Linked DNA regions of Homo sapiens: all the other regions are linked to region 3. The links come from fine-mapping of genetic effects on gene expression. A gene starts in region 3. Each other region holds a variant in brackets. All regions are shown on one strand. Distances are between the middles of the regions. Region 1 overlaps EHMT1 (euchromatic histone lysine methyltransferase 1). Region 2 overlaps EHMT1 (euchromatic histone lysine methyltransferase 1). Region 3 holds the start of PNPLA7 (patatin like domain 7, lysophospholipase). Region 4 overlaps PNPLA7 (patatin like domain 7, lysophospholipase). Region 5 has its middle 5.6 kb from the start of MIR602.

Region 1 (4,119 bases), 95 kb before region 3:
AGAGGCGGGTCCTCCAAACAGGACTGGGAAGAAGGAGGCGGCAGGAAACCAGAAGAGTGCAGTGTTCTAGAAGCCAAACGGAGACAACTAATCCCAGGTTTTTTTTGCTTGAATTATGATAACAAATGCTGGTGAAAGAACCAGTAAGACGAAGGCTGAGAACTAACCAATGACAATGTCTAGGTCAATGGTGACCATAACCAAAAGGGCATCTGAGGAGTAGTGGAGACCAAAGCCTGCTGCAGCGGGCTCAGCCACGTGGGGACTGGAAACAGCACAGGCAGAAGGAAACCTGAGGGACTGGAATTTAAGGTACAGAAAGGTAAGGAAGAAGCTGAACATGAATAGCCGTGTTTTCAAAGACAGTAGGAGATAATGTTAAAGCTGAAAATCAGTTAAGACATCCAACGTTACAAGATTTGCGGCAGTGAGGGGATCAAACCCAGCCTCCAATTCGGCCAGAGCTCATGACAACACACGTGCCTTGCGAGATGTGAAAACAACAGAACTGCGCCACACCTCCCCCAGGCCACCCCAGCCCACATGCACGTGGGCCTCCCCCAGACCACCCCAGACCACCCCAGCCCACACGCTCGGGGGCCTCCCCCAGGCTCCAGGGTTGGGCAGCCAAGGCTGCTTTCCACCTGCTGACTAGCTCCTCTCTCCCACAAAACGGGAGCACTCCTCGGGGCTCCCATTCAGCCCTCTTACTTTCCAGCCCATTGTCCAGAGAATGAGTCCCTCGTCCTCTCCCCGTGGTCACAGGATTCTTGCCCGCAGCACAAACTTGAAATGTTCCTCAGGCCAGGTACCACTGTCCCACAGAAAGACAGGAAATGCCACAGACATCATTTTAAATTTCTAGCATCTACATTTAAAAAGTAAAAATAGGCCAGGCACAGTGGCTCACACCTATAATCCCAACACTTTGGGAGGCCGAGGCAGGCGGATCACCTGAGGCCAGGAGATCAAGACCAGCCTGGCCAACATGGAGAAATCCCATCCCTATTTAAAATACAAAAAGTTAGCTGGGTGTGGTGGTGGGCACCTGTCATCCCAGCTACGCGGGAGGCTGAGGCAGGAGAACTGCTTGAATCCGGGAGACAGAGGCTGCAGTGAGCTGAGATCACACCATTGCACTCCAGCCTGGGCAACAGAGCAAGACTCTGTCTCAAAAAAAAAAGTAAAAATAGAAGTAACTAATTTTAATAAATTGCCTTTAACTCAGTATAGATCCAAAACATTATCAACATGTAACCAATATAAAATAATTAGTACCAAAAGAGTGTGAACTATCGTACTAAGCCTCTGAAATCTAGTGTGCATTTCACATAGCACATCTCAGTTCGATATGGCCATGTTTCAAGGGTCTGAGGCCCACGTGGGGCTGCAGCCACGTTTCTGGAGATCACAGCCACCTCTCCACTCAGCGCTGCAAGTACAAAAGCCAACCCTTCTCTAAGATTCCATTTGGAATCGAGTGAAAAAGACACTTGTGTATCAGTCTGCAGCAGAGATGGAAACACAGACAGCCTTCCTTTAACCACCTACAGGAGGCCCCTCTTCGCTGCTTCTATCACACCCTGTTTATCTCTTTTAATAGCAATTACCAAAGTGTGTAATTGTTTGTCTTTCTCAAAACTAGGACACAAGGGCTTCTGTAAGTACAAGGCAGACGCCATGTGCATTCTCATGTGGCTCCCAGTGCAGAAGCTGGCACACGAAGGCAGTAAGTACTTGTTACAAAAATCAACAAATTAAGGAACACATGAATGGATAAATGGTTCCTGTCTACACTGAGAAGTCAGTTAATTCCAAAAATATTCACCCTGGGCCACAAAAACATATGTAAATCAATAAAGGCGCAAGCCAATTCCGGCCCTTTCTCCTTTTGTATCAGGTTACACAACAATCTATCAAGGCCCTGAAGTGTGCCAGGCAACATTCAGTGGGTTGGGGAACTAATACAGCTAAATAAGCAGGCCGTGGCGGCTCACGCCTGTAATCCCAGCACTTCGGGAGGCCGAGGCAGGCGGATCATTTGAGGCCAGGAGCTCGAGAGCAGCCTGGCCAACATGGCGAAACCCCGTCTCTACTAAAAATACAAAAATTAGCCGGGCGTGGTGACACACACCTGTAATCCCAGCTTCTTGGGAGGCTGAGGCAGGAGGATCACTTGAACCTGGGAGGTGGAGACTGCAGTGAGCTGAGATCGCACCACTGCACTCCAGCCTGGGCAACAGAGGGAGACTGTCTCTTAAAAAAAATAATAATAAATAAATAAATAAATAGAGCCCTAACCTCAAAGAGTTTACAATCTAGCAATTGAGACAACCAAAAGACCAATAATTAAAACACAAAATAAATGTTACATCAAAAGACAAGGTGCTTTGGAAACAATGACTAGATCTCAATCAGGGGCCAGCAAACTACAGACTGCCACCTGTTTCTGTACAAACTGAAAGCTAAGCATGATTTTTAGACTTTTAGATACATAACTCATAAAAAGTATGTGAATGTTTTTGGCCGGGCCCGGTGGCTCAC[G/A]CCTGTAATCCCAGCACTTTGGGAGGCCGAGGCGGGTGGATCACGAGGTCAGGAGTTCAAGACCAGCCTGGCCAATATGGCGAAACCCCGTCTCTATTAAAAATACAAAAATTAGCTGGGCGTGGTGGCATGTGCCTGTAATCCTCCCAGCTGCTCGGGAGGCTGAGGAAGGAGAATTGCTTGAACCCGGGAGGCAGAGGTTGCAGTGAGCCAAAATTACGCCACTGCACTCCAGCCTGGGCAACCAAATGAGACTCCATCTCAAAAAAAAAAAAAAGTATGTGACTGTTTCAAGAGTGATATGAAACTCAAATTCCAGTTTCCAAACACTTCCAGTTTTACCAGCACACAACCACCCCCACTTGTTTACGTATTGCCCGTGGCTGCTTTCCTGCCATAAGAAAGCTGAGCAGCTTCCCAGAGACCACGTATGGGCCTCTTGGTGGGCCATAGTGCTGCTCCGCAATGCACGGCGGGATCAGCCGTGCCGAGTGCCACCTGGTCACCGTACTGCTACTGCCACTTACCAAGACAGCTCACACCCATCGTCAAAACAAGAAGGGAGGAGCGGCCCTCAAGTGCTGTCCCTTTAATCCACACTGCAACTGCAATTGTATGGCAAAGCTCTGTTTACCACGCAATGACACGTCAGACAGGGGTGAGAAGACAACGCATGCTGCAGATGAAGTACTCATCACAAAGTTCCCAAATCCCTGGAAGGCAGCAGTCAAGTCAAAAAAATTAAGAAGCTCAACAAATCCAAATGAGAAAAACGCAAAGAGTTCCACACCTACACACATCACCATCAGGCTGAAACCACAGACAGAGACTCTCAAAAGCAGCGACAGAGGAGCAACGTGTCATGAACGAGGGTCCTGAGAGATGAGCAATGGTTCCTCATCAGAAACCATGGAGTGCAGCCAGACAATACCCTCAGAGTACTAAAAAACCTTTATACGGCCGGGCGCGGTGGCTCACGCCTGTAATCCCAGCACTTTGGGAGGCCAAGGTGGGCAGATCACGAGGTCAGGAGATCCAGACCATCTTGGCTAACACGGTGAAACCCCGTCTCTACTAAAAATACAAAAAATTAGCCAGGCGTGATGGCAGGTGCCTGTAGTCCTGTAGTCCCAGCTACTCGGAAGGCTGAGGCAGGAGGATGGCGTGAACCTGGGAGGCAGAGCTTGCAGTGAGCCGAGATGGCACCACTGCACTCCAGCCTGGGCGAGAGGGTGAGACTCTGTCTAAAAAAAAAAAAAAAAAAAAAACCTTTATACACAAAACTACCTTCATAAAGGAAAAATAAAACATTCCAAGATAAACAAAAGTAGAGAGTTCATCACTGAAAGACCTAAGAGTCCTTCAGGATAAATGAAAGGACACTAGACAGTAACTCAAGCCCACATGAATAGAGAGCACCAAGGCCAGGCACGGTGGCTCATGCCTGCAACCGCAACACCTTGGAAGACTCAAGTAGGAGGGATCTTCTAAGACCAGGAGTTGGAGACCAGCCTGGGCAACACAGTGAGACCCCATCTCTACAAAAAAAAAATTAAAAATCAGCAGGGAATAGTG
Region 2 (4,119 bases), 75 kb before region 3:
AGACAATGAGACACTAAAGGAAAGGTTACATCATAGAAGAAAGACTAAGAGATAAGACAGCAAAGAGGAACGAATGCAGGGAAAACACAAAAAATGAAGGAAACAACTTTTTTTTTTTTTTTTTTGGTTAGAGACAGTCTCTCTCACTCTGTCACCCAGGCTGGAGTGCAGTGGTGTGATCATGGCTCACTGCAGCCTCAACCTCCCGGACTCAAGCAATCCTCCTGCCTCAGCCTCCTGAGTAGCTGGGATTTCAGGCACGCACCAGCTGGTCATGGTGGTGCATGCTGGAAGTCCCAGATTTTAGGGTCTTGCTGTGTTGCACAGGCTGAGACATTTTTTAAATAGTTTTTTAATAACTTTAACTGTAATTTTAAAATTTTAATTGTAATTAAAATAAATAAGCAAAGATACTATATATATAAAACAAGAACAGGAGATACTAAAAAGAATAGAAAACAGTAAAGAATATAAAAATATAACAACTGGGCCAGGCGTGGTGGCTCACGCCTGTAATCTCAGCACTTTGGGAGGCCAAGGCGGGTGGATCACCTGAGGTCAGGAGTTTGAGACCAGCCTGACCAACATGCAGAAACCCCAACTCTACTAAAAAAAAAAAAAAAAATACAAAATTAGCCAGGCTTGGTGGTGCATGCCTGTGATTCCAGCTACTCGAGAGGCTGAGGCAGGAGAATCACTTGAACCCGGGAGGCAGAGGTTGCAGTGAGCCGAGATCGCCCCACTGCACTCCAGCCTGGGCAACAAGAGCAAAACTTCGTCTCAAAAAAAAACAAAAACAAAACAAAACAAAAAATATATATATAAATAACAACTGAAGTTAAAAATTCGATTAAAAAAATTGAGAAGTGGTCAAAAATGCTCCCCCAAAATAGAACAAGACCAAGACATGACAAGAAAATATACTTAAAATCAGAAAACTAAATACAGGAAGTCCAACATTCAACTAAAGGAAACGGAAAAGGAGAACACAGAGAAAACAGTAAAGAATAAACTGTCGGCCACACACGGTGGCTCACACAGGTAATCCCAGCACTTTGGGAGGCCGAGGCGGGCAGATCACTTGAGGTCAGGAATGTGAGACCAAACTGGTCAACATGACAAAACCCCATCTCTACTAAAAATACAAAAATTAGCCAGGCATGGTAGCACGTGCCTGTAGTCCCAGCTACTTGGAAGCTGAGGCAAGAGGCTTGCTTGAGCCCAGGAGTTCAAGACCAGCCTGAGCAACATAGTGAGACTGTCTCTCTCCAACAACAACAACAACAACAAAAAACCTCCTATAATGAAAGGGTGTCAATCTTCAGATTTCACAGCTACTTAGGCACCTGCATAATACATAACAAAAGGCTAGCACTAAACGCATGATAAATATTAGGAAAATCACGGATGCAACGATCCTAAAGGTTCGGCAAGGGAATAGTGCTTGCAAACGGTTAAGAATGAAATTGGGCCTTGCCAGCAAGGTGGCCCACGCCTGGAATCCAAGCACTTTGGGAGGCTGAGGCGGGTGGATCACCTGAGGTCAGGAATTTTAGACCAGCCCAGCCAATATGGCGAAACCCCATCTCTACCGAAAATACAAAAATTAGCGGGGCGGGGTGGCAGGAGCCTGTAATCCCAGCTACTTGGGAGGCTGAGACAAGAGAATCACTTGAACCCAGGAGGTGGAGGTTGCGGTGAACCCAATCGCGTCACTGCACTCCAGCCTGGGTGAAAAGAGCAAAACTCCATCTCAAAAAAAAAAAAAAGAAGAATGAAACTGGGCCAGGCTCGGTGGATCATGCCTTTAATCCCAGAACTTCAGGAGGCCGAGTTCAAGACCAGCCTGGGCAACATGGCAAGGCCCTGTCTCTACAAAAACAGAAAAATCACTGCCGGGAACAGTGGCTCACGCCTGTAATCCCAACACTTTGGGAGGCTGAGGCGGATGGATCATTTGAGGTCAGGAGTTCGAGACCAGCCTGGCCAACATGGTAAAACCCCATCCCAACTAAAAATACAAAAATCAGCTGGAGTCCAGGCATGGTGGCTCAAACCTGTAATCCCAGCACTTTGGGAGGCTGAGGAAGGTGGATCACTTACTTGAGGTCAGGAGTTCGAGACCTGCCTGGCCGATATGGC[G/A]AAACCCTGTCTCTACTAAAATTACAAAAATTAGCCAGGCGTGGTGGTGCCCACCTGTAATCACAGCTACTCGGGAGGCTGAGGCAGGAGAATTGCCTGAACCGGGCAGGTTGCAGAAAGACAAGATCACACACCACTGCATGCCAGCCTGGGCAACTGGATGCCAGACTGGGTGAAACCATGTCTCAAAAAAAAAAAAAAAAAAGAGGCCGGGCATAGTGCCTAATGCCTGGCCTGTAATCCTAGCACTTTGAAAGGCTGAGGTGGGCAGATCACAAGGTCAGGAGTTCAAGACCAGCCTAGCCAATATGGTGAAACCCCGTCTCTACTAAAAATACAAAAAAATTATCTGGGCGTGATGGTACACACCTGTTAATGCCACCTACTCAGGAGGCTGAGCCAGGAGAACCACTTGAGCCCAGGAGACGGAGGTTGCAGTAAGCCGAGATGGCGCCACTGTACTCCAGCCTGGGCAACAGGGTAAGACTCCATCTCAAAAAAAAAAAAAAAAAGAAAGAAAGAAAAATCAACCGGGTATGGCGGCACACACCTGCCGTCCCAGGTACTACTCAGGGCACTGAGGCAGGAAGATTACTTCAGCCCGGGAGGTCAAGGCTGCAGAGAACTATCATTGAACCACTCCTCCAGACTGTCTCAAAAAGAAAAAAGACCAAACCAGACTTCTCAAGAGCAACAATGAAAACTGAAAGATATTGGAGCTATGACTTCAAAATGACTTTCCAACCTACCAGCCAAACTTACTAAGCGCACGGGCAGAATAAAGACATTTGCGGCCGGGTGCGGAGGCTCACTCCTGTAGTCCCAGCACTTTAGGAGGCCGAAGTGGGCAGGTCACCTGAGGTTGGGAGTTCAGGAGCAGCCTCGCCAAGAAGTTGAAACCCCGTCTCTACCAAAAATACAAAAATTAGCCAGGCACAGGCGTGGTAGCAAGCACCTGTAATCCCAGCTACTTGGGAGGCTGAGGCAGGAGAATCGCTTGAACCCAGGAGGCGGAGGCTGCAGTTAGCAGAGATAGTGCCACTGCACTCCAGCCTGGGCGACGGAGCGGACCTCCATCTCAAAAAAAAAAAAGAGTAAATACATTTTCAGACACGCAAACCCCAAAAGTTCACCGCTTACCACACCTTCCTGGCTAGCTAACGGAGAGTGTGTTCCATCACCAGGAGGGAATAAACAGTGAGCAGCATCAGACACAGGGAAAGGTGAGGAGACTCCTTTGGATGATGCTGTGTACCAGGCAGAGGGAACATGCATTCTTTTTTTTCTTTTTTTTTTTTTTGAGACGGAGTCTTGCTCTGTCGCCCAGGCTGGAGTGCAGTGGCATGATCTTGGCTCACTACAAGCTCCACCTCCCGGGTTCACGCCCTTCTCCTGCCTCAGCCTCCCGAGTAGCTGGGACTACAGGCGGCCGCCACCACACCCGGCTAATTTTCTTGTATTTTTAGCAGAGACAGGGTTTCACTGTGTGTTAGCCAGGATGGTCTCGATCTCCTGACCTCGTGATCCACCCACCTCAGCCTCCCAAAGTGCTGGGATTACAGGTGTGAGACACCGCGCCTGGCTGTATTTTTTTTTTTTTTTTTTTGAGACAGGATTTTGCTCTGTCACCCAGGCTGCAGGGCAGTGGCACAATCACAGCTCACTGCAGCCTTGGCCTCCTGGGATCAAGCGATCCTCCCACCTCAGCCCCTCAAGTAGCTGGGACTACAGGCACATACCACCACCACACCCAGCTAACTTTTTTACTTCTAGTAGAGACAAGGTCTCACTCTGTTGCCCAGGCTAGTCTCAAACTCCTGGGCTCAGGGGATCCTCTCATCTCGGCCTCCCAGGCATGAGCTGCTGGCCCTGGCCAAGAACATACATTCTGATTGGGGCAGGATGAACATAAGAGAACAAAAATCTTCTCTAATCTAAATCTTACACTAATTCACCATTAATGGAAGTCCATAGTCG
Region 3 (4,084 bases):
CGGACCAGGCAGCGCGCCGCTGCGGCCAGGACGCCCATGCCGCGCCCTGCGGGAGGAGAGAGCGGGTAGTCGCGGCCCCGGGAACCCGGCCAGCCCCGCCCCTGGCCGCGCGCGGCGCCCGCCCCAATCCGACAGACTCACCTGGACCGGAGACCCCACACGAGCTCCAAGCGGCCCCGGCTCCGGCGCCAACCCGGCCTCGACCTTGCTCCGCTTCCGACCGCTGCGTCGCAGCAAGAGCGGCTCCGATTGGCCGCGGCCGCCGCGTCCAATAGCGGCCCCAATCTGGTAGGGGGTGTGGCCGCGGGGACTCGGCCAATGCGAGGAGCGCGCGGGGCGGGGCGGGGCTCGCGGGGCTGGCGGTGCGGGGCCGGCGGTGCGGGGCTCGCGGGGCGGGGCTCGCGGGGCGGGGCTCGCGGGGCGGGGCTCGCGGGGCGGGGCTCGCGGGGCGGGGCTCGCGGGGCGGGGCTGGCGGATGAGTGATCGCTCTCAGCGCGGTGGTCCCTGGCGTCTCCACTGCCCGCCACTGCCTGTGTTCGTCCGCCAGGTGGCCGGCGGTTTCCCGGGAGCCCAGTCCCCCTGAGGCCGTGAGGTGGCGTCGGGAGGTCGGGGAGGACGCGGGCCCTGGACTCGAGACGGCCGCCGCGTTGACGCCGCGACCCTGCCTTTCTTACCCCTCCGCCGGGCGCGGCTCCTCTGGGCGGAGCCGGCAACCGCGCGGGGAAAGCCCGGGACCTGCAGCCGGGAGGGCCCGGGCTGTCTGTGCTCCCCCGCAGGCCGGGCAGTGGTGTGGGGGGACTCGAGCCCTCGCGGTGCCCAAATTAATCAATAATCTTGGACCCAGCACGTCCGGCTTGCGCACTGAGCCCTCCTGCCCGGTCACCCTCGCAGGCGACCTCTCACCCCACGCGGAAGTCGCCCCCCAGCCGCACCCTCACAATCCGGATCCACCCCCTCCCCAGCTGCACCCCGTCCCCAGCGGCACCCCCACAGCCCAGATCCATCCCCTCTCCAGCTGCACGCCCTTCCCCAGCGGTACCCCCACACCCCAGATCCATCCCCTCCCCAGCTGCACCCCCTCCCCAGCGGCACCCCCACGCCCCAGATCCACCCCCTCCCCAGCTGCACCCCCTCCCCAGCGGCACCCCCACGCCCCAGATCCACCCCCTCCCCAGCTGCACCCCCTCCCCAGCGGCACCCCCACACCCCAGATCCACCCCCTCCCCAGCTGCACCCCCTCCCTAGCGGTACCCCCACTCGCCGGATCCACGCGCTCCCCAGCTGCACCCTCTCCCCAGCAGTACCCCCACACCCCAGATCCACCCCCTCCCCAGCTGCACCCACTCCCCAGCGGTACCCCTACACGCCGGATCCACCCCCTCCCCAGCTGCACCCACTCCCCAGCGGCACCCCCACACCCCAGATCCACCCCCTCCCCAGCTGCACCCACTCCCCAGCGGTACCCCTACACGCCGGATCCACCCCCTCCCCAGCTGCACCCTCCTCCCCAGCTGCATCCCCACACCCCGGATCCACGCCCCGCCAGCGTCACCTCCCCTCCAGCCGTGCTTCTCCAGAAGGCAGCGCTGCCCCCATCCCCGCCGCGCTGGGCCTGGCTCCTCTTGACCTGCTTGGATACGCCCCATCTGGCTGCTGTTCTGGGTTCCGGGACAGCCACGTGAGGGCTGTTTACAGAGGGAAGGAGGTGGCTCCTAGCAGATGACAGACACTTCTCAAAAGACAGCTTTTCTTCCTGGAGAACAGACTTTTTCAGCAGGATTTTCCTTTCAGTGAAACATAATTTGACTTGAAAGGAACCCAGGGAAAAGTGTCCAGGTGTGAGCATGAGCGGGTAGAGGTGTGCCCTTGTTTGCTTCAGGCTGTCTGCTTTTCGCCCCTGACTGTTTTTTCTGTTTCTGGCCATGGAGGAAGAGAAAGATGACAGCCCACAGGTATGTAACTCGGGGGACCAGATGCCTGGATTTCCCAGTTGGGGGGCATTTCTGGACCCAGAGAAGGGTCCTCTTGGCGTCTGCTCTGCCGCGCTCTTTGGCCCCGTGGCTTCTTGGCGCCTGAGGACTGTGGGAGTGGTGGATCTGGCCCCTCTCTGCTGCCTGTCACAGCTGCCAGCACTTGTTAGACGCGCCTGTCACAGCAGACAGCCAGTGGTGGCCCATGGGCATTGTTCACAGCGAGGGCAGCCAGCGGTGGCCCATGGGCATTGCCTGAGGCCTTGTCTTTTCTTCCCCTAAGGTCACAGTTGCTACTTCCAGTTCCTTTAGGACTTTGCCTGATGGTTTTGCTTAGAACCTTTTTCTGTGTTTTTTTTTTTCCCAAGACGGAGTCTCGCTCTGTCGCCCAGGCTGGTGTGCAATGGTGTGATCTTGGCTCACAGCAACCTCCGCCTCCTGGGTTCAGGCAATTCTGCCTCAGCCTCCCGGGTAGCTGGGACTACAGGCACCACGCCCGGCTAATTTTTGTATTCTTAGTAGAAACGGGGTTTCGCCATGTTGGCCAGGCTGGTCTTGAACTTTTTTTTTTTTTTTTTTTGAGACGGAGTCTTGCTCTGTCGCCCAAGCTGGATTGCAGTGGCACGATCTCAACTCACTGCAAGCTCTGCCTCCCAGGTTCACGCCATTCTCCTGCCTCGGCCTCCCAAGTAGCTGGGACTACAGGCGCCCACCACCACGCCCGGCTAATATTTTTTTGTATTTTCAGTAGAGACGGTGTTTCACTGTGTTAGCCAGGATGGTCTCGATTTCCTGACCTCGTGATCCGCCCGCCTTGGCCTCCCAAAGTGCAGGGATTACAGGCATGAGCCACCGTGCCCGGCCTAGTCTTGAACTCTTGACCTCATGATCTGCCCGCCTCGGCCTCCCAAAGTGCTGGGATTACAGGCGTGAGACACTGTGCCCAGCCCTAGAATCTTTTTCTTAGTCAAACATCTGTAGCCACATGGCAAAGGCCTTATTTCCTAAACCAGAACACTGGACCCATTAAAGCAACAGTGAAAAGCTAGAAAAGGCTGAGCCGCTCCACCGCAGGAGAGCCTGTGACCAGGTCACGGGCCATCGCGTGATAGGCCTTCCTTGGATAATCGGTCCCAGAAGCGGTTGCTGGGCTGAGGGACTCACTTCGCTTCCTTAAGTGAGGGACATGGTCGTAGGTGCTTCTCTGCTCCCCACCTGGTTGAGAGTGAGCGTAGGGGTTCCCCTGTCCTGAAGCAGAAGCTCCCAGGGCTTGTATTTGCTTCTGAACCAAGTTCGAAGGGCTCAGCTTTCTGGGCACGTCCTCATTCTGTCTTGGTGCAGAATTGTGTCTTTAAATGCGTTTCTGAGTGCTCTTCTGACTTCCCTGAGTTTTCTTTTTTTTGAGATGGAGTCTCGCTCTGTCGCCCAGGCTGGAGTGCAGTAGCACAATCTCAGCTCACTGCAAGCTCTGCCTCCCGGGTTCACGCCATTCTCCTGCCTCAGCCTCCCAAGTAGCTGGGACTACAGGCACCCACCACCACGCCCGGCTAATTTTTGAATTTTTAGTAGAGACGGGGTTTCACCGTGTTAGCCAGGATGGTCTCGATCTCCTGACCTCATGATCCGCCCGCCTCAGCCTCCCAAAGTGCTGGGATTGCAGGCGTGAGCCACTGCGCCCGGCCCTTCCCTGGATTTTCTGGCACGGATGGGAGTCCTGCTCTCTGCAGTGAGGCGGGGGTGGGTGTTGTTTTAGGCCTTGGCTCTTGTGTAGAAACTTTCAGGCTGAACCAGTGGCTTCCCCTGCCCTATCCGGTTCCTGGCTGCCTGGGAGGAAGGTGTGATGCCAGCAGGAATGGAGAGGGCTGCCTGTCTGGCTGGTGTCGTCTTCTCGTCTTCTCGTTTTCTCTTTCACTTCTTGGAACCACCAGCGTCCTCTGCTGTCGTTCACTCACCATCCTGCCCTCACCCTCTCTTCCCTCCCTCCCGCGGACCTGGACTTCTGAAGTCCTGCTGCTCCAGGAGACTGCAGGACACAGAGCCTTCTCGGCCGCTGCCTCCTTGTTTGGCATGTGAACTGGTGTTGAATGTTCTCAGAATCCAGATGGCTCATAGGG
Region 4 (4,119 bases), 62 kb after region 3:
AGAGCAAGACCCTGCCTCAAAACACACACACAAAAAGGTGTTTTTCTCTGTCTTTAGTTTTCAGAAATGTGATTTGGAAGTGTCTGAGCATGAATACTTTGGATCTGTCCTGTTTGGGGTTTCTTCGTCTTGGACCCGTAGGTTTATAGCTTTTAACACATTTTGGAAGTGTTCAGTCTATATGTCTTCAAACGATTCTTCCACTCGTGTGCCCCTCCACCTCTTCTGGAAATAAAGTGGCACAAGTGTTAGACCTCGCGTTATTGTCCCCAAGGTCTCTGGGGCACTGCTCATTTTTTAAACCTTTTTTTTCTCTCTCTGATGTTAAGATGGAATTGTTTCTTTTGATCTATCTTCAGGATCTTTGGCTTTTTGTCATCTCGATTCTGCTTTGAGGCCTATCAGAGAGTTTTAAAAAAATGTTCTGTCATCGTGTTTTGGTTCTTCTGTGTGCCTCCTGTTTCTTTGCTAGGACGTTCTCTCTTTGTCTTTGTTTCAGGAGTGTTCAGGATTGCTGGTTCTAGCTGGTAATGATAACAGCTTTATCGTCCTGGAGAAATAATTCCGTCTGTGACATGCGGTCGTTTTTATCTGTGGATTGTTTTTACTCCTCTGGTTCAGATCCTCCTTGCTCTTGGCATACTGGGTCACCATGGATGTGGCCTGGTCACTGTGGACCCATCCTGGTCACTGTGGATTTTGTGTCCTGATGTTTTGAGTGTTAGGCTATGAGACTCTGGTTCCCATTTAAGTCTTCAATTTTCACTGTTAGTGTGCTTGTATTCACAGGGCATGTCCTGGCCAACGTTTGTGGAGTGTGGTTTGAACGTGAACTGACCCTGGTCTGCCTACTAGGTGCTGCCCAGGCCCAGTGTGAAGGCTGCATTCTGCGCCATCTTCAGCTCTCAGACCCGAACACCTGACCCTGGCACAGGCTGCGTCTTCATTACAGATTCGAGGCTTTCTTGATCTCCTACCTCTAGTTGGCAGGAGGTGGGGCCTCCTCTGCTTTCTCTGCAGGGGTGCACAGTTGGGGGGATGTCTGCTGGTCAGGGGGTGCACAGTTGGGAGGGATGTCTGCTGGTCAGCGGGTGCACAGTTGGGGGGATGTCTGCTGGTCAGTGAGTAGACAGTTGGGATGTCTGCTGGTTAGGGGGTACACAGTTGGGAGGCATGTCTGCTGGTCAGAGGGTGCACAGTTGGGGGGATGTCTGCTGGTCAGTGAGTAGACAGTTGGGATGTCTGCTGGTTAGGGGGTACACAGTTGGGAGGGATGTCTGCTGGTCAGGGGGTGCACAGTTGGAGGGATGTCTGCTGGTGTGGGCGGTGGACAGTTGGTGAAGAGGTTTCCTGCTGTGGGTGGTGGACAGTTGGGAGGATGCTGGCTGGTCGGGGGGTGCACAGTTGGGGGGGGATGTCTGCTGGTGCTTGCTTGGTGCCAGTCAGTGTCCCTAGAGGCAGCTCCCATGGGGAGGGAGGGACAGACCCCTCCGTCTGTGGCAGCCATGTGGCTGGGAAGCAGACTCTGCTTCTTTCTTGGCCTGAGTCAAGTGGTTCCTCCATGAGTCCGAGGTCCCCGGCCAGCCTGCCTTCCTCTCCATCCTTTGGAGTCTTGCGAGAGCTGCCTCGAGCTCTGTCCCTCTCTGATCATGACTGGTGACAGGTGGCCTGTGTCTGCTCCACCTCCCTTCTGGCCCAGAGCCAGAACCTCACCAGTGC[T/C]TTTTCCCAAGGCTAAGGCCATATGGAACTAGCAATGGCCTCCCCCATTCCGCCTCAAATGAGGACTCTGACACCTCAGTCCCTGGAGAGGCGAGAGGAAAGGGATTCCCAAGGAAAAGCTGCAGGAAAAATAAAAATAAATCCACATCAGAGAGCCACGTTCGGGCCGAAGCTCGGGACGAGACATCAGACCGCGAGAGCCGCGTTCGGGCCGAAGCTCGGGACGAGACATCAGACTGCAAGTGAAGCTCGGGACGAGACATCAGACCACGAGAGCAGCGTTCAGGCCGAAGCTCAGGATGAGGAGGCGGTTCTCCGTCTTTCTGTGCTCAGCAGCACTTTGGTGTGTGTGTGCATTGTTTGTTTGCTATCTGGGAGTTATTTCCTCCTGATTATAGAAGCCACCTGCCTTCCACTCAGCGCCTAGAGGCGGAGACACATCATCTGGGCCTGAGTCCCCCGCTCCTCCCGTGTGGCCAAGGCTCAGCTGCAGTGAGGGGCTGAAGTGCGTGCGGTGAAGGTGATGCTGGGGACACCTCGCAGGGCGTGCCAGGTTGTGGTGGTGGCCCAGGCTCCTGAGATGCCCCTGACAGGCAGGTGGAGGCTGGATGGGACGGCCTCTCGGGGGCCAGCTGGGGTTGGGTAGAACTGGAGGCTCTGTGGCTGGCACAGCCGGTTCCGTGCCGGTGTGGCTGGTTCCCCCAGAGGAGCAGAGGCTGCCAGGAGGAACACGTGTGGAGGGTTTTATTTTGCTTCATTTTTCTTGTCTGTCATTGTGGAGTTTTATCACAAAGGCTGTGTAGGCTGCAAAAAGACCTAAGAGCCCCCAGGCACGAGATGAAGACGTGGGCGCCTCCCTCTTACAGCTGCTCAGGTGGTGCTGAGGCGCCAGTGCCCCGGTTCTTTTCCTGCACAGACACAGCTGCACATGCGTCAGGCAGGGTCCTTTACTGGGGCTGCCGGTTTGGGTATTTACTCCAGGGCTGGGGTCCCCTCCAGGGGTCCATGAGCCCCACGGCGACACTTGGCCAGCCCTGCACTCCAGGCCGGCACTTTGGGCCACTCAGCTCCAAGCGCTTATCCCGACCAGGGCCCGGTGTGGATGCCTCTGCACGTCTCCAGCGCTGCTTGGTCACAGCCCTTGGCAGAAGCTGGGTGCGGTCTGTGAACAGCTGGGGATGCAGCTGGGCTTTGCAACCTCCAGGCAGAGATGGGCACTGGACACTGAGCCCTTGGCAGCCGGTGCGCAGCACGCAACCGTCCATCCCTGGCTTACCTGCTGGGGCCAACCAAGCACTGGGCCCTGTCGGAAGCTGGCACCGTGCTCAGGAAGCCAGTCAGGAAAGAACCTTCTCCTAGAGCTGCAGTCGAGTTGGGTCAGGGATGAAATTGGACCAAGAAGGCAAAAGAGATGGCTCAGAAGGGCGGGGGGAGGGGCAGGGGCACGCAGGTGGTGGGGCAGCGCTCCCTGAGGAGGTCAGGACCCTTGGGGCCAGGAAGAGAGCTGTGTGGTGTGGGGGTCACCAGCAGCTCTCAGGGACCGCAGATGGGCTGAGGCTGCAGACTCTGGCTTGTTCTGAGTGGGGAGGGGCACCAGGGGCTTTGAGCAAAAAAGGCTCCGGGCAGACTTGGGCGTCGAAGGCCAGCTCCGGCCACTGTGCACAGAGCGTCCTCTCAAGCAGGCGGCTGAAGCCACCCCAAGGCTGGGCGGTGGAGGCCCAGGGCTCCCGGTGCTGAGTTGGACTGAGGGCGGGGACTGAGCTTTGGTGGGTCGGGTAGGAGCCTGGGGCCGGAGGTGGGGGCCGAGTCCGAGGGAGGATCTGGGGCTGTGTGAGTCTTGGACACTCATTCGGGATGTGGGATGGGCAGCATCATTTATCTGTTTCTGCCTGCATACAGGTACGGGTGTTTTTCTTTTGGGAGGCCTTGAGTATTTATTTAATAATGGAATCACATTTATAAACCACTCTGCAGCTTTCCTGCTCAGCAGCACGTCATCAGCTATTTTCCTGTGAGCACATGATTGCCGGCTGTGCGCTGGTTCTCCGAGCCATGTTCCCCGTTCACAGGCTCTTACCCGCAGTGCTGCCACGGCGCCGTGTGCATCCCAGGATCTTGCAGGTGTCCGCTGGCCGCCGTCTGCAGGGAGTGGCCCTTAAGCCCTCACTTGGTTCTGTGTCCCCAGGCTTGCTCTCCTGGCCTCTTCCCTCACCATGCCGCGTCCCCTTACTCTGACCTTGGCCAATCAGGACCTGCGTGTCTGGTGGATTTTGGAAGCCACCTCACTGGGGACGGGAGACATAGGCCAGGGGACAGCCTGTGAGAGGGCTGGGCCACGGGGACTGCAGAGGAGGAGCATCCACGGCACCTAGATGCAGGAGACCCTCGTGGGCAGGAGCG
Region 5 (4,119 bases), 290 kb before region 3:
GGGCGCGCACAGACAGGGCACGGCTTAGGAGGCTTAGGAGGAATCCTGGGGGACAATGCAACCTCCAGTGGGGGCGCGCACAGACAGGGCACGGCTTAGGAGGAATCCTGGGGGACAATGCAACCTCCAGTGGGGGCGCGCACAGACAGGGCACGGCTTAGGAGGAATCCTGGGGGACAATGCAACCTCCAGTGGGGGCGCGCACAGACAGGGCACGGCTTAGGAGGAATCCTGGGGGACAATGCAACCTCCAGTGGGGGCGCGCACAGACAGGGCACGGCTTAGGAGGAATCCTGGGGGACAATGCAACCTCCAGTGGGGGCGCGCACAGACAGGGCACGGCTTAGGAGGAATCCTGGGGGACAATGCAACCTCCAGTGGGGGCGCGCACAGACAGGGCACGGCTTAGGAGGAATCCTGGGGGACAATGCAACCTCCAGTGGGGGCGCGCACAGACAGGGCACGGCTTAGGAGGAATCCTGGGGGACAATGCAACCTCCAGTGGGGGCGCGCACAGACAGGGCACGGCTTAGGAGGAATCCTGGGGGACAATGCAACCTCCAGTGGGGGCGCGCACAGACAGGGCACGGCTTAGGAGGAATCCTGGGGGACAATGCAACCTCCAGTGGGGGCGCGCACAGACAGGGCACGGCTTAGGAGGAATCCTGGGGGACAATGCAACCTCCAGTGGGGGCCCGCACAGACAGGGCACGGCTTAGGAGGAATCCTGGGGGACAATGCAACCTCCAGTGGGGGCCCGCACAGACAGGGCACGGCTTAGGAGGAATCCTGGGGGACAATGCAACCTCCAGTGGGGGCCCGCACAGACAGGGCACGGCTTAGGAGGAATCCTGGGGGACAATGCAACCTCCAGTGGGGGCCCGCACAGACAGGGCACGGCTTAGGAGGAATCCTGGGGGACAATGCAACCTCCAGTGGGGGCCCGCACAGACAGGGCACGGCTTAGGAGGAATCCTGGGGGACAATGCAACCTCCAGTGGGGGCCCGCACAGACAGGGCACGGCTTAGGAGGAATCCCGGGCTGCAGGCATTCTGAGGCCCAGTGGCCAGGCTTTCGGCCTTTGAAGCAAGATCCACGAGGATGTTTTGAAGGAGCCCCTGGGAGCTGTGGCTTGGATGTCCTGAAGTTCTTGGATGCTGGAGACGTGGTTGTGGGTTGTCTTACATCGGAGGCGAGTAGCTGTAACTCAGAAATGCGTTGCTGTCTGGCTGCCTCCTCTCTATTATTGTACACCTTGAAGGTGAGGTTGATTAATTCCTGTTGTGGGGTTTGAGGGCCGGATTCCAATTTTTGAAGCTTTTTTCTAATGTCAGGAGCTGACTGGGTGATACAATGCATATTAAGAATAAGGCGTCCCTCTGGCCCCTCTGGGTCTAGGGTGGTAAAGCGTCTAAGGGTTACTGCCAAGCGGGCCATGAACTGGGCTGGGTTTTCGTCTTTACCTTGGGTAGTTTCTTTAAGTTTGTCATAATTAACAGTTTTGTAAGCTGCCTTTTTAAGCCCTTCAACTAGGCAGGAAACCATGTAATCTCGCCTAGCTATACCTGGGGAATCTGCCTGGTAGTTCCACTGGGGAACTTCTCAGGGAACTGCTCTGATGCCTTCCGGGAGGTCTGGCTCTTGGAGCCAGTGGTTGTCAGCATGAGATTGGACTAGAGAAAATACTCTTTCCCGTTCATCTGGGGAGAGGGTAGAAGTTAGGATGACATTTAAGGCACTCCAGGTTAAACTGTAGGACAGAGTTAGATGTCGGAATTCCTGTATATATTTAGTGGGGTCTGATGAGAAAGAGCCTAAACGTTGGCTGATTTGGGAAAGGTCTGATAGAGAAAAAGGCGCATGTACCCTGACTATGCCTTCAGCTCCAGCCACCTCTCTAAGAGGAAATTGTTGGGCAGGTGGGGGAGAGCTGGTCGCAGAACGAAACTGTTAACCAGACTGGGTGTGGGAGGGAGGTAATAGAAGGGTTATAGGGTGGAGGAGCAGAGGCTGAAGAAGAGCTGGAGCCTGATTCAGCCTGGCGGGGAGCGACCTGAGGAGGAGCAGTCTGGGAGGAGGTGAGAGGTCAGATGGGTCAGTAGAAAAGGAAGATTCACAAGGCTCAGCGACGCTCGGGGTTGGGACCGAAGGGAAGCCTACGTCGGGCATGAGGTGCGGGTTCATGTCCTGATGTTGACAGCTCGCTGTGGTTACACAGGACCGCCTGTGTGTAGGAAATATTCATGGAAGTATTTGGGGATGATGGGGTACGAAGTCAGGAATTTATTCTCCAGCAGATCAGAGAAAAAAGATTTCTGTATTGTACTTGCAGCTGTTCTGTAAGGTTGAGATTGTTTTGATGTTTTAAAATGTCAACAAATGTTAATAAAGACACGTGCACGTCTATGTTCATTGCAGCACTATTCACAATAGCACGATTCCAAGATGTGGAATCAATCTAAATGCCCACCAGTGGCAGACTGGATGAAAATGTGGTACATAC[G/A]CACCACGGAATACTATGCAGCCATAAAAAAGAATGAGATCATGTCTTTTGTGGGAACGTGGATGGAGCTGGAGGCTATTATCTTTAGCAAACTAATGCGGGAACAGAAAAACAAATACCGCATGTTCTCAGTTATAAATGGGAACTAAATGATGAGGGCTCATGAACACAAAGAACAAGAGACACTGGGACCTACTTAGGAGTGGAGGGTGGGAGGAGCGAGAGGATCAGGAAAAACAACTAATGGGTACTTGGCTTAGTACCTGGGTGATGAAATAATCTGTGCAACAAACCCCCATGACACGAGTTTCCCTGTTTAACAAACCTGCACGTGTGCCCCTGCACCAAAAAGATTTTTTTTTTTTTTTCGAGACAGAGTCTCACTCTGTCGCTCAGGCTGGAGTGCAGTGGTGCGATCTCGGCTCACTGCAAGCTCCGCCTCCCCAGTTCAAGCCATTCTCCTGCCTCAGCCTCCCGAGTAGCTGGGAATACAGGCGCCCACCACCACGCCTGGCTAATTTTTTTGTATTTTTAGTAGAGACGGGGTTTCACCGTGTTAGCCAGGATGGTCTCGATCTCCTGACCTCGTGATCTGCCCGTCTCAGCCTCCCAAAGTGCTGGGATTACAGGCATGAGCCACTGCGCCTGGCCAAGATTTTTAAAAATAAATAAAATACATGTTGGGTCAAAGAAGCCAGAGGCAATGAAGTGCGCACTCCATGGACCCAATTATAGGAAATTCCAGAACAGAAATGTTAATCTATACTGACAGGAACAGATTGGTGTCTGGGGTTCAGGAGTGGTGGCATGGATGACACAGACGGGGATGGTGGTGTGGAGGATACCGGGGGGATGGTGGCGTGGAGGATATGGAGGGGGACGGTGGCGTGGAGGATATGGGGGGATGGTGGCGTGGAGGATACAGGGGGACGGTGGCGTGGATGATACAGAGGGGGGACGGTGGTGTGGAGGATACGGGGGACGGTGGCGTGGAGGATATGGGGGGATGGTGGCGTGGAGGATACAGGGGGACGGTGGCGTGGATGATACAGAGGGGGGATGGTGGTGTGGAGGATACGGGGGACGGTGGCGTGGAGGATATGGGGGGATGGTGGCGTGGAGGATACAGGGGGGGATGGTGGCATGGAGGATACAGGAGGGACGGTGGCGTGGAGGATACGGAGGGGGGACGGTGGTGTGGAGGATACAGAGGGGCATGGTGGCGTGAAGCATATGGGGGGGATGGTGGCATGGAGGATACTGGGGGGGATGGTGGCATGGAGGATACAGGAGGGACGGTGGCGTGGAGGATACGGAGGGGGACGGTGGCGTGGAGGATACGGGGGGACGGTGGCATGGAGGATACGGGGGGACGGTGGCGTGGAGGATACAGGGGGACGGTGGCGTGGAGGATACAGGAGGGACGGTGGCGTGGAGGATACGGAGGGGGACGGTGGCGTGGAGGATACGGGGGGACGGTGGCATGGAGGATACAGGGGGACGGTGGCATGGAGGATACGGAGGGGGACAGTGGCGTGGAGGATACAGGGGGACGGTGGCATGGAGGATACAGGAGGGACGGTGGCGTGGAGGATACGGAGGGGGACGGTGGCGT

The links. PIP is the estimated chance that this variant, and not a neighbour inherited with it, causes the effect.
Region 1: its variant is the best candidate, but not a certain one, in a credible set for the expression of PNPLA7 in whole blood (TOPMed, PIP 0.85).
Region 2: its variant is the best candidate, but not a certain one, in a credible set for the expression of PNPLA7 in whole blood (TOPMed, PIP 0.83).
Region 4: its variant is the best candidate, but not a certain one, in a credible set for the expression of PNPLA7 in pancreas (GTEx, PIP 0.63).
Region 5: its variant is the best candidate, but not a certain one, in a credible set for the expression of PNPLA7 in prefrontal cortex (ROSMAP, PIP 0.86).

The regions. Positions count from the first base shown.
Region 1 is chr9:137,643,031-137,647,149 of GRCh38, reverse strand. The region is part of intron 1 of EHMT1 (euchromatic histone lysine methyltransferase 1); the gene reads right to left. Among named protein-coding and RNA genes, the nearest start is that of EHMT1, 26 kb to the right of the region's middle. The variant G/A (reference allele first, on the strand shown) is at 2,545.
Region 2 is chr9:137,622,536-137,626,654 of GRCh38, reverse strand. All of the region lies in intron 1 of EHMT1 (euchromatic histone lysine methyltransferase 1), which reads right to left. Among named protein-coding and RNA genes, the nearest start is that of EHMT1, 5.6 kb to the right of the region's middle. The variant G/A (reference allele first, on the strand shown) is at 2,143.
Region 3 is chr9:137,548,036-137,552,119 of GRCh38, reverse strand. PNPLA7 (patatin like domain 7, lysophospholipase) reads left to right here and starts at 1,718. Exons shown (of 35, transcript NM_001098537.3): 1 at 1,718-1,952. The coding sequence starts at 1,923. MRPL41 (mitochondrial ribosomal protein L41) reads right to left here and starts at 241. Exons shown (of 2, transcript NM_032477.3): 1 at 142-241; 2 at 1-46. The coding sequence starts at 38. RefSeq lists a silencer at 1-919 and an enhancer at 2,108-2,609.
Region 4 is chr9:137,486,011-137,490,129 of GRCh38, reverse strand. The region is part of intron 20 of PNPLA7 (patatin like domain 7, lysophospholipase); the gene reads left to right. Among named protein-coding and RNA genes, the nearest start is that of NSMF, 29 kb to the right of the region's middle. The variant T/C (reference allele first, on the strand shown) is at 1,720.
Region 5 is chr9:137,841,977-137,846,095 of GRCh38, reverse strand. No RefSeq gene overlaps it. Among named protein-coding and RNA genes, the nearest start is that of MIR602, 5.6 kb to the right of the region's middle. The variant G/A (reference allele first, on the strand shown) is at 2,505.